2 separate regions of the Homo sapiens genome follow, and region 2 is linked to region 1. The links come from fine-mapping of genetic effects on gene expression. A gene starts in region 1. The other region holds a variant in brackets. All regions are shown on one strand. Distances are between the middles of the regions.

Region 1 (5,353 bases):
GAGGGTCCTAGAGTCCAGGAGGTGAAGGCGGCAGTGAGCTATGATTCCATCACTGTATTCCAGCCTGAGCGACAGATGGAGACCTTGCCTCGTAAAAAACAACCACCGCCAGTGGCTCACGCCTGTAATCCCAGCACTTTGGGAGGCTGAGGTGAGTGGATCACTTGAGGTCAGGAGTTTGAGACCAGCCTGGCCAACATGGTGAAACCCCGTCTCTACTAAAAATACAAAAAAATTCAGCCAGGCAGTGTGGCGCGCGCCTGTAATCCCAGCTACTCGGGAGGCTGAGACACGAGAATCGCTTGAACCCAGGAGATGGAAGTTGCAGTGAACTGAGATTGTGCCATTGCACTCCAGCCTGGGTGACAGAGGGAGACTTTGTCTCAAAACAAACAAACAAACAACGAAGAAGCTGTCAATCTGTTTCCAAAATGGTCGTACCACTTTACATTTCCATCAGCAGGATATGAGAGATCCTGTTGCTCCACATCCTTGCCAACATTTGCTATTGTTGGTCTTTTTCTTTTTCATTAGTCAGGTGTGGTGGCTCCCATCTGTGGTCCACAGCTAGTCACTAGGACCACAGATGCGAGCCACCACACCTGGCTAATCAAAATTTTTTTTTTGTAGAGGCAGGTCTTGCTGTGTTGCCCAGGTGGGTCTCGAATTCCTGGACTCAAGTGATCCTCCTACCTCAGCCTCCCAAAAGCTCTGGGATTACAGACTGAGCCACCATTCCTGGCTGCATATGCTAAGTCTGTGGTGTAAATACTCCCATCATGGCCAAAATCAAGCTACCAATACTACCTTGGGAAGAGATGTTCAATGGCATACTGTCATATATTTCCACCACACAGTTACAACAGATATAAGCAACCACAAAAGCACACAAAACGTAAAATGTAGTGAAATAATTAGAAAATAATGAGTTTTGTTTTCAATATACTTTATTTCATCCTAAATTGATATAATTTTCTAAATGGCTGTATTTAACCAATTTGCAAAATTACTGCAAATTTAACAATGGACTCTCAAGATAGTATGAGACAGCTCCAGCACACCACTGGTTGGTTGTCTTATTCTTGAGCTGGGAGAATTCTTTATATATTCTACATCAGCACTGCCCAATGGAACTTTCTGCAATAATGAAGATGTCCTATAATTTTGAGTGGTCCAATCTGATATCCACTAGTTATCTGTGGCTACTGAGCACTTGAAATGTGGCTAGTACAAATGAGAGACTGAATTTTAAATTTTACTTAATTTTAATCCATTTAAATTCAAATTTAAATATCCACATAAGGCTAGTGGCTATCATAACAGACACAGAAAGAACTGACTCTCTCCCATGCGGGATAACATTTGGGACAATAATAACGTTAATAAGAGTTATATTGTGCATACTTTATATGTTCATAAAACTGTAGTTAAAAGCACAGATTCTGGAGTCAGCTGCCTAGGTTCAAATCTGTTTCCTTCTCTTTAAAATGGGATTAGCCTGTAATCTCAGCACTTTGGGAGGCTAAGGCCGAAGGATCCTTTGAGCCCGAGTTCCAGACCAGCCTGGGCAACAAAGCGAGACGCGGTATCTACCAAAAATAATTTTAAAGATTAGCTGGGCGTGGTGTCGCAAGGCAGCAGTCCCAGCTACTCCGGAGGCTGAGGCGGGAGGGAAGATTGCTTGAGCCCAGGATGTCGAGGCTGCAGTAAGCTGTGATCGCACCACTGCACTCCAGCCTGGGCGACAGAGCAAGATCCCGTATCAATAAAAAAGGAAAGAAAAGAAATAATGCTTGTAGAGCGTTCGGCACAGTGTCGGGTTATACTGTAAACATTCAGTAGTTGGCGCTAGTTATTAGAGCGGTGTTCCTGGATGAGCCACCTCCATGTTGAGCCTGTAAAACTGGCCTAATATGTTCTCTATGAGTCACTGCATTGCTCTGCAAATCAGATAAAACGTCACTCGTAGGTCAGTTATTAACAACCCCACTGATAATCTTTGGAAAAAACTGACATAATTTTCTTTTTCTTTTTTTTTTGGTGAGACGGAGATTTACTCGTTGCCCAGGCTGGAGTGCAATGGCGCGATCTTGGCTCACCGCATCCTCCGCCTCCCAGGTCCAAGCGATTCTCCTGCCTCAGGCTCCCGAGTAGCTGGGATTACAGGCATGTGTGACCACGCCCGGCTAATTTTGTATTTTTAGTAGAGACGGGGTTTCACCGTGTTGCCCAGGCTGATCTCGAACTCCTCACCTCAGGTAATCCGCCCGCCTCGGCCTCCCAAAGTTCTGGGATTACAGGCGTGAGCCACTGCGCCCGGCCAGAAACTGCCACAATTTTCTAAAGAGGAAAAAAAAATCCCTTCTAAGCTATCCCCTCCCGACGAGACCCTTCCTGTTCCTTTAAAATGGGCCGGGCAGCAGAAAGACGAGTGAGTGACAGCAGACAGGCCAATCAGAAGCGGCCCCGTCTCGGGCCCACCCCGAGGCCTGGCCCAACCGCGTCCCGGTAGCTCCCGGAATAGGAGCGTTGCGAGACGGTCGGTTCCAAGTGGGCCTGGGCGCGGGGGAGAGGCGGGTCTGTCCTCGGGAACTGCAAGGCCCTGTGAGCGGGAGGACTGGGATCCCGGCCGCGGCTGCTGGAAGCGTCGAAGCTCAGCGGGGCCGCGGACACTGACCTGTGCTTAGAACTCATCCTGGCCCGCAGAGCCTGCCGCGAGTCCCTGGCGTCCCCTGTGGCGGGCTCTTGGAGCCACTTTCCCGAGCGGAAGTCAGCCCGCGGCTCGGACTCCGGCGGGACCTGCTCGGAGGAATGGCGCCGCCGGGTGAGGAGTTGCGCGTGGCTTTGGGGAGAGGGCTGTCGCCCGCGGGAGGTTACTAGTCGCCGCTCGAGAGCCGGCCAGGCGGGATCCCCTTCCCCTGCGGGACAGGGGCATGGGCACAAGCTCTGGCTGGGGCGCTCTCGGATCGAGGGTCCGAAGGAGGGCTGCGAGCTGGTGGGAGTGCCCGCGACCTGGCGGGGTTGGTGCCTGGGGGAGGGGTGCAGCGCGGAGCTACGGGTCGCCCCGAGGCTCAGCCGTGGGGACCGCGGACGCGCTTAGCCTAGGTCTGGCCTCATTCATTTCACTCGCGCGGGCTTCTGGGCCAGGCGGCCTAAGGTTCTGGTCCCGGCGCTGCCCCTTACTCCGTGTGAGGTTTTGGGCAGATTGTCCTTCTTTGTGCTGTAGTTTCCCATTCAGTGAAAGGGGCAAAGAAAACCCTCACTTCTCTCTGGGAGCCTGGAGCATAAGTTCTCAAGTGACACTCTAGGTGCAAACTTGCAGTCGGCCACGTATTCATTGTGTAACCCAAAGCAGGTTACTTAACCCCTCTACACCTCAGTTTCTCATCTGTAAAATAAGTTAGTCAAATTAGTCACGTTATCTGCCTCGTTGAGTTGCTTTATTAAGTGAAATAATCTTCGTGCTTAGTTTAGAACAGTGCATGGCCCTAGGTAAGAACTAAGTTAACTGCATTGGAAGTTACTGAGTAGACGCTGTGCAGGGTGGAATTTCATGTAGCCTCATCGTAACTTTGGAAGCATGTACTCTTGTTACTACCATTTGACAGATGAGAAGTTGGAATCCCACGGAAGGGAACTTACTTGCCCAGGGTGACACATGAATGAGTCAGTGGCTCACCGTTTCATTATTTGAGAAGTTCAGGATAGTAAAGTGGTTAAAAGCAGACTTTGGATTCAAATTGCCTGAAGTTTGATTTTCAGTGATGTGTCCTAGGGCAGGTAACTACTTCTGAGCCTTACTTTCCTGGTCTGTGAAATGCAGAAAATAGCCACCTTGCTTAGATGTTGTGAGGATTTAATGATTTGGTGTGTGCAAAGCACAGCATAGCGTGGGCATACCTAACATATTAAGTGCTCAACTTTTAGTCAGAAAAGTTACTGCTCTCGTTAACATGGAGTGAGAAGATTAGGATTCTGACACAGGTGCTGTTTTAGGGGAATTTACGGTCTAGGTGGGAAAATGCTAGTCGCAGCCATTCACTAGATCTTCATATATTGGGTACCCGCCTGTGCACAAGGCATTGGGGATTCAGCATTAGTATCTTGACTCCGCTCTCTCTTAGGTCTTTCTGTCCATTAGCAGTTTCTGATAGGCTTTGACTTTGAATTCTAGCCAGACTAACTCTCATCACTTCTCATCATGTTCACTGCTGTTGCCCTGGTTTGGGCCACCATCATCTTCTGGCTTGGATTATGGCGGTAGTCTCCCAACTGGTGTCCCCTGCTCTGTCCTTGCACCTGCATGGTCTGTTCTCCACACAGTATTGTTTATTCTCAACACAGTAATACCATTAGAGTGTAAGTCAAATCACTCCTCTGCTTAGAACTTTCCAGTGGTCTCCAGCCGGGTGCGGTAGCTCACGCCTGTAATCCCAGCACTTTGGGAGGCTGAGGCGGGCGGATCACGAGGTCAAGAGATCAAGACCATCCTGGCCAACATGGTGAAACCCCGTCTCTACTAAAAAGACAAAAATTAGCTGGGCATGGTGGCACGTGCCTGTAGTCCTAGCTACTTGGGAGGCTGAGGCAGGAGAATCGCTTGAACCCGGGAGGCGGAGGCTGCAGTGAGCCGAGATCGCGCCACTGCACTCCAGCCTGGCAACAGAGCGAGACTCTGTCTAAAAAAAAAAAAAAGAACTTTCCAGTGGCTTCCACTACGGTGGTATACAAGGCCCTCTGGATTTGTCCTCTGCTACCTCTGTTACCTCATCTACTTCTTACCCTTTGCTTATTCCACTCAAGCTGTACTGTCCTTGCTGATCTCAAAAAACACTGTATGTGTACATACTCCTGATTCAGAATGTTTGCATTTGGTTTTTCTTTTCTTTTTTTTTTTTTTTTTTGAGACAGAGCCCCAGGCTGGAGTGCAGTGGCACGATCTCAGCTCACTGCCCACTCTGCTTCCCAGATCAAGTGATTCTCGTGCTTCAGCCTCCCTAGTAGCTGGGATTACAGGCCAAGTCACCATGTGCGGCTCATGTTTTGTATTTTTAGTAGACATGGGGTTTCACCATGTTGGCCAGGTTTGTCTTGAACTCCCGACCTCAGGTGATCCCCCTGCCTTGGCCTCCCAAAGTGCTGGGGTTAGAGGTGTGAGCCACTGCGCCTGGCCATATTGGGTTTTTCTTCTTAGCATAGTTTCCCACCAGATATCTTTATGACTTGCTTCTTCTTCAGATCTGTACTCAATATGTTTATTTCTTAGTCCTTCATAGACTACCGTATTTAAAATGCAGCCCTTCCCAAATATCTCTTCTGTACTTTATTTTTTTCCATAGCACTTACTTTGTAA
Region 2 (5,304 bases), 61 kb after region 1:
TGCTTTCACCTCTGGAAATCGTTTTCAGATGTGCCGCTTTCTTCTATCCAGGACGTTTGCTGGAAGAATGTAACTCAATAGTGTACCCTCAACGTGGCTGCCAGTTAGGGTGCTGGGATCAGAGAGAGGCTTTTTCAGGGAGACCATCAGTGGGTGGGAGAAGATGTCTCATCTCCGCCCGAGTCTCCATTGTGAGCTTTCTGAGCATTTCACCATGGAGACTCGGCACAGACGTGTTCCTTGGCTTTCCTGTAGGAATCCAGGGCCCACCAGAGCTTCCCTTAGCACCAGCAGTGGCAGCTGGTTCATTTTGCCACCCTCCAGTAGCCTTTTCCTGGTGGTTCTGCATTGTACCTGAGAAAGAGCCAGGACTCAGTTGCTTTTGCAAAGCAGAACCCTGTTCCCTTGCAGCACCTGCCTGGGCCCCCAGGGAGCCAAAAGACTGCTCTGCTAAGTTCTCTCTTTTCTGGAAGTTGCTCACTCGAGAAGAATGAAATCTGCCCGCCATGGTGGCTTATGCCTATAATCCCAGCACTTTGGGAGGCTAAGGCGGGAGGATCGCTTGAGCTCAGGAGTTGGAGACCAGCCTGGGCAACATAGTGAGACCTCGTCTCTCAAAAAATTAATAAAAATTAAGAAAAAAATCAAGACAAGAATTGAGTAGAAACCATTTGGTTTATGTTCTGCTTAGCAGGAGTTCCTAATCTGGAATCCTAAAGTTGTATGCATTTTATGGGGAGAGAGACTATGGTTTTTATCAGAATCCCAGAAGGATCAGTAACTCCTCCCTCTCCCCTGCTCATGTATTCGATTCAAAAACTTAAAGCCCACTCTTCTGTGGCCCTCTTTGTGAGTCCTAGAATGAACTCTACCCTGGAAAAATCAGTGACCCTAATGGAAGCTCTGGTTGGGTGTTTGTCATTTCTTTCCTCAGCTGATTTCTCCCCTCACTGTCCTTTCTTGATTCTCAAACCCTCTTTCCTTTGGCAGGATCGCTGCAGAGCAGAGCAGTAGATTGGCAAAATATAGGACACTACGGTAAAGATGAAGGGCGGACTCATCCCAGAAGCAGGGTCCCTTCCCCGTCTTGCCCGCCTCATGCATGTCAGTTATCTCTCTAGTTTTCAGCCCACTTGCTCCTCCCACCCCTCCCTAAGCCACAGCTGAATTCTGAGGCTGCTTTTCAACTTGCTAGATGAGGTTGTGACTGGACCAGGGCAAAAGCTTCCTGAGTTAGCCCAGCTGATGGGATAACTTTGCAGTGAGCAGCTTTGGCCTGGCTTTGACTGTATAAGACTTCATTCTCCCTTATATCCCGTGGGGTACTTACTTATTTATAGACAAGCCTCTCTCTCTGTTTCCAGGACAGCTGAGATGAGGATAAGACAAATCCAAAATTCATTAAATGACGGTCCCATGGCAAATCCTGGCACACCTTGTCACTGTTTCTAGACTTTTCTGTAACACCGATCTCTAGTTGGGCTAAACATTGTGGTCTGGGGAGACTGTAATTTATGAAGGACTGATGGCCACAGATCAAAGCCAGCATCAGAATCCAGGTTCCTAGCACTCAGGGTATGTTAAAAGGGCTGCTCCCCATGTGACTAAAATGTGAAGTGAGATTCCACTCATTCTCCTTCTGCATATCAGTCCTAGGATGGGAGGGAAGTGGAGGGAAGGAGAAGGAGAGTCTGATGCTTCACTGATCTGCTCCGCTAGACCAGGGTCTGGCAAAAGTTTTCTGTAAAGAGCCAGACAGTATTTTAGGCTTAACTGGCCATATGGTCTCTTGGCACCAACTACTCAACTCTGTCACTGTCATGTGAAAGCAGCCATAGACTGTATAAACAAATGGGTGTGGCTGTGTTCCAACAAAACTTTATTCACCAAGACAGGTGGTGGGCTGGATTTGGCCTGAGTGGCACAGTTTGCTGACCCCTGCCCTAGACCAACAAAGGGAGGGGAGGTATTTGAATTTTCAAGTCATGTTCTCCTTTATCCTTTGCCTTGGAAATGGCTTTCCCTGCCAAAGCCACAAAACCATCTAATTTCTAATCCTCTGAAAATAGGAGAGATCAACAAAAGCATAGTATTTGGAGCCTTTCCATGGATGTGTGAGCATAAGCTGGGTCACCTAGTCCTCAACACAGAAGGGAACTGCATTTGTTTGTTTGTTTGTTTGTTTGTTTGTTTGTTTCCAGGTTTAATGGAGTTGTAATTTATCTGCAGAAAAATGTACCCTTTTTAGTGTACAATTCTGTGAATCCTGAAAAACCTCTGTAGTCATGTAGCCACCACCTCAGTCAAGATATAGGTATTGCCACTCTCCAGAGAGCTCCCCGGTGCCCCTTTTAGAGTCCGACCCTTCTCCCACCCCCACTCCCTGGCTATGCCCGTTTGGTTT[C/T]ATCCTACATTATAGTCACTCTGTCTGAGATTTGCTTTCAGCAACTGTCCTTGCTGCTACATGTTGAGTTCTTTAATTCTTTAAATAAGTCGATTTCTTTTCTTGATTAAAAAGAACTTTTTTTATAGAGATGGGGTCTCATTATGTTGCCCAAGCTGGTCTCAAGCTCCTGGGCTCAAGCAATCCTCCTGCTTTGGCCCCTAAAAGTGCTGGGATTATAGACGTGAGCCACCTTACTCAGTCTCTTGAGTTTTAAAGTCCGTTCCCACCCTGCTATCCCCAAATCATTGCTTGAGGAAGAGGAAAGTCACTTGATCATTTGGACATTTGGCATTTCCTAGCATTTGAAAGGAAACCCCCTGGTAGCAAAGTGTTCTTGATCTGAGGGCAGACATTGATTTGAGCAGACATAATGTGGGACGTAAGTTCTAGCCGCAGTCAAGAGTTGTGGGCCACTACCCTTCGGCTGTTCTTATTTCATACTCATGCCATCCTTTCTGCATGAACATTTCTGAATGCCCACATATTAGTGTACCTAAGAACCTCTGAATACTGGCAAGGAATTAGGGGTGCACACCCCAGCCCTCAAGATTAATTCCATGCCTGTGCATGTCTTTTGGAACTGCTTTATTAATGGGTTTGGAGTCTGCCATTCTGCAAGACTGGATCATTATCACCTTAGTCCTCACCCCTGGGAAGAGCTGCCACTGAAGGATGGTGTGTGTGTGTCAGCAACCCTGCCTCTGCTTGCTGGAGCCTGCTGGGATCAGTTACTCACTGCAGTCACCTCCTCAGCTTCACAGTCTGTCTAGATTGTCATTTTCATTCATTGTGCTTCCCCATCCCTCCTTAGAGTCTAGGGAAAGGCAGCGGAGGGGAAACAAAGAGTACAGGAGATAGGTTCTTATCCCCTTTAACACTTTCTGTGAGCTGAGTCCCATTTTTGAGAATCTTTCTGTGTTAGGTTAGATGCTGAGTGTGACTTGGCAAGAACACGGCCACACGGCAGGAATGTGCAGGTTTCTGTAATGAATGGTCAGGATGTCATGTTCTAAGCTACAGAAGGGCCAAGTGTTGGTTGGCAGAGCTGGAGTCTGGGAGATTGATGATGAGCATTATTTAAACTTTGCTCTTTGTTCATCTAATTGAAATTTACACTGTGTTTTTGGCCTTGCACTGTGAGAGGTGTGCCTGGAATTACCTCATCTCCTTATGTTGTCACATACCACTTTCTTAGTTATTATTGAGTTTGTTTTGTTATTTGTATTTAAGTTGTCATCAGCTTAATTATGAACTAGCTGTCTCACATTCTTTTGTAAAATGAGATGGGGCATACATAAATAGACTTGGGAGATAAATGATTATTCCCTTATAAATGGGATCTTAGAGCGGGAGAGTACCTTAGTCTCTCTGTTGTCACCAGTTAGGAACTGTAACTGTGAACTGAAACCTTCAGTAATTCTGTGTTTGTCTCCATTTTCTTTCAGAACAGCACATTAGTTCCAGAAGAAAGATGGAAATTCTGAAAACTGAATGTCAAGAAAAGGAGTCAAGAACAATTCACAGTATGAGAAGAAAAATGGAAAAAAAAAACTTTATTTAAAAAAGAAAAAAGTCCAGATTGTAGTTATACTTTTGCTTGTTTTTCAGTTTCCCCAACACACAGCAGATACCTGGTGAGCTCAGATAGTCTCTTTCTCTGACACTGTGTAAGAAGCTGTGAATATTCCTAACTTACCCAGATGTTGCTTTTGAAAAGTTGAAATGTGTAATTGTTTTGGAATAAAGAGGGTAACAATAGGAACAAAGGCCTGATTGAGAGCTTATTCTCATACTTTTGGGTGGTGGGGTCCTTGGGTATATGACATGAGGACTTAGTTGGAAATGCTGTTGATGCCAGCATATTTCTCCAGGCCTTTCTTGGTCCTTCTTGCCCCTTGCTCCTAACAGAACTGAGAACTGCCTGGAAAGGCCAGCTTCCTTTTTTCTTCTCCAGCAGTGAGCACCAGCTGTCTGCATAGGAGCCCTGTTGGTATCTGAAGGCCCCATTTGGACCTCTAGGGGTCCAAGGGGATAGGTTTTTATCCCCTTTAACATTTTCTGTGAGCTGAGTCCCATTTTTGAGAATCTTTCTGTGTTAGGTTAGATACTGAGTGTGACTTGGCAAGAACACAGCTAAACAACAGGAATGTGCAGGTGGACTGCAGCTAGGACCTCTGCTCAAGGCTCTTGTCTTGGGGCCAGGCATGGAGGCTCACGTCCGTAATCCCAGCACTTTGGAAGGCCGAGGCAGGGGGATCACTTGAAGTCAGGAGTTTTGAGACCAGCCTGGCCAACATGGTGAAACCCTGTCTCTACTAAAAAACCAAAATTAGCCAAGGGGTGGGCATGGTGGTGCATGCCTGTAATCCCAGCTACTTGGGAGGCTGAGGCAGGAGAACAGCTTGAACTTGGGAGGCGGAGGTTGCGGTGAGCCATTGCACTCCAGCCTGGGCCACAGAGCCAGACTCCATCTCCAAAAAAAAAAAAAAAAAAAAAGACTTGCATGGAGATTTGTTGCAACATGAATTTTCAAGGGACACAAATTCAAACCATAGCACTGACCACTTGAGTGACTTTAGTCTAGAAGGCCACATCTCAAGAATGCCCCCTCTGAAGTTGTGCCCATTACATGAGGTTATATAATAGCACAGAGAGAAGTAATACTGCATAGCATGGTTGACTGCGTAGACTTTGGTTCCAGGCAAACCTAGTGTTGCCACTTACTAGGGTGAGGGACCTTGGGCAAGTAGTTTAACCTCCGTAAACCTCCTTTTGTGTTTCTGTAAAAGAGAGATGATAACTACCTACCTCATAGGATTAAAGGAGTTGAATGCTGACGCAGCTTAGCACTTGGCATC

Alleles and levels. Positions count from the first base shown, and alleles are read on the strand shown. Sizes are in standard deviations (SD) of each study's normalised expression.
With allele T in place of C in region 2, the expression in anterior cingulate cortex of the gene that starts at base 3,003 in region 1 is higher (moderate effect, 0.47 SD a copy in GTEx).

The links.
Region 2: its variant is fine-mapped to the expression of MROH8 in anterior cingulate cortex (GTEx, PIP above 0.99). The same link has a PIP of 0.9 or more in amygdala and cerebral cortex.

What each region holds. Positions count from the first base shown.
Region 1 is chr20:37,176,546-37,181,898 of GRCh38, forward strand. MROH8 (maestro heat like repeat family member 8) reads right to left here and starts at 3,003. Exons shown (of 25, transcript NM_152503.8): 1 at 2,844-3,003; 2 at 2,678-2,842. The coding sequence starts at 2,935. It overlaps RPN2 (ribophorin II), which reads left to right and starts at 2,785. Exons shown (of 17, transcript NM_002951.5): 1 at 2,785-2,824. The coding sequence starts at 2,812. RefSeq lists enhancers at 2,343-2,902, 2,411-2,490, 2,841-2,890, 2,903-3,460 and a silencer at 3,011-3,060.
Region 2 is chr20:37,237,412-37,242,715 of GRCh38, forward strand. RPN2 (ribophorin II) reads left to right here. Exons shown (of 17, transcript NM_002951.5): 17 at 3,892-4,208. The coding sequence ends at 3,904. Among named protein-coding and RNA genes, the nearest start is that of GHRH, 22 kb to the right of the region's middle. The variant C/T (reference allele first, on the strand shown) is at 2,405.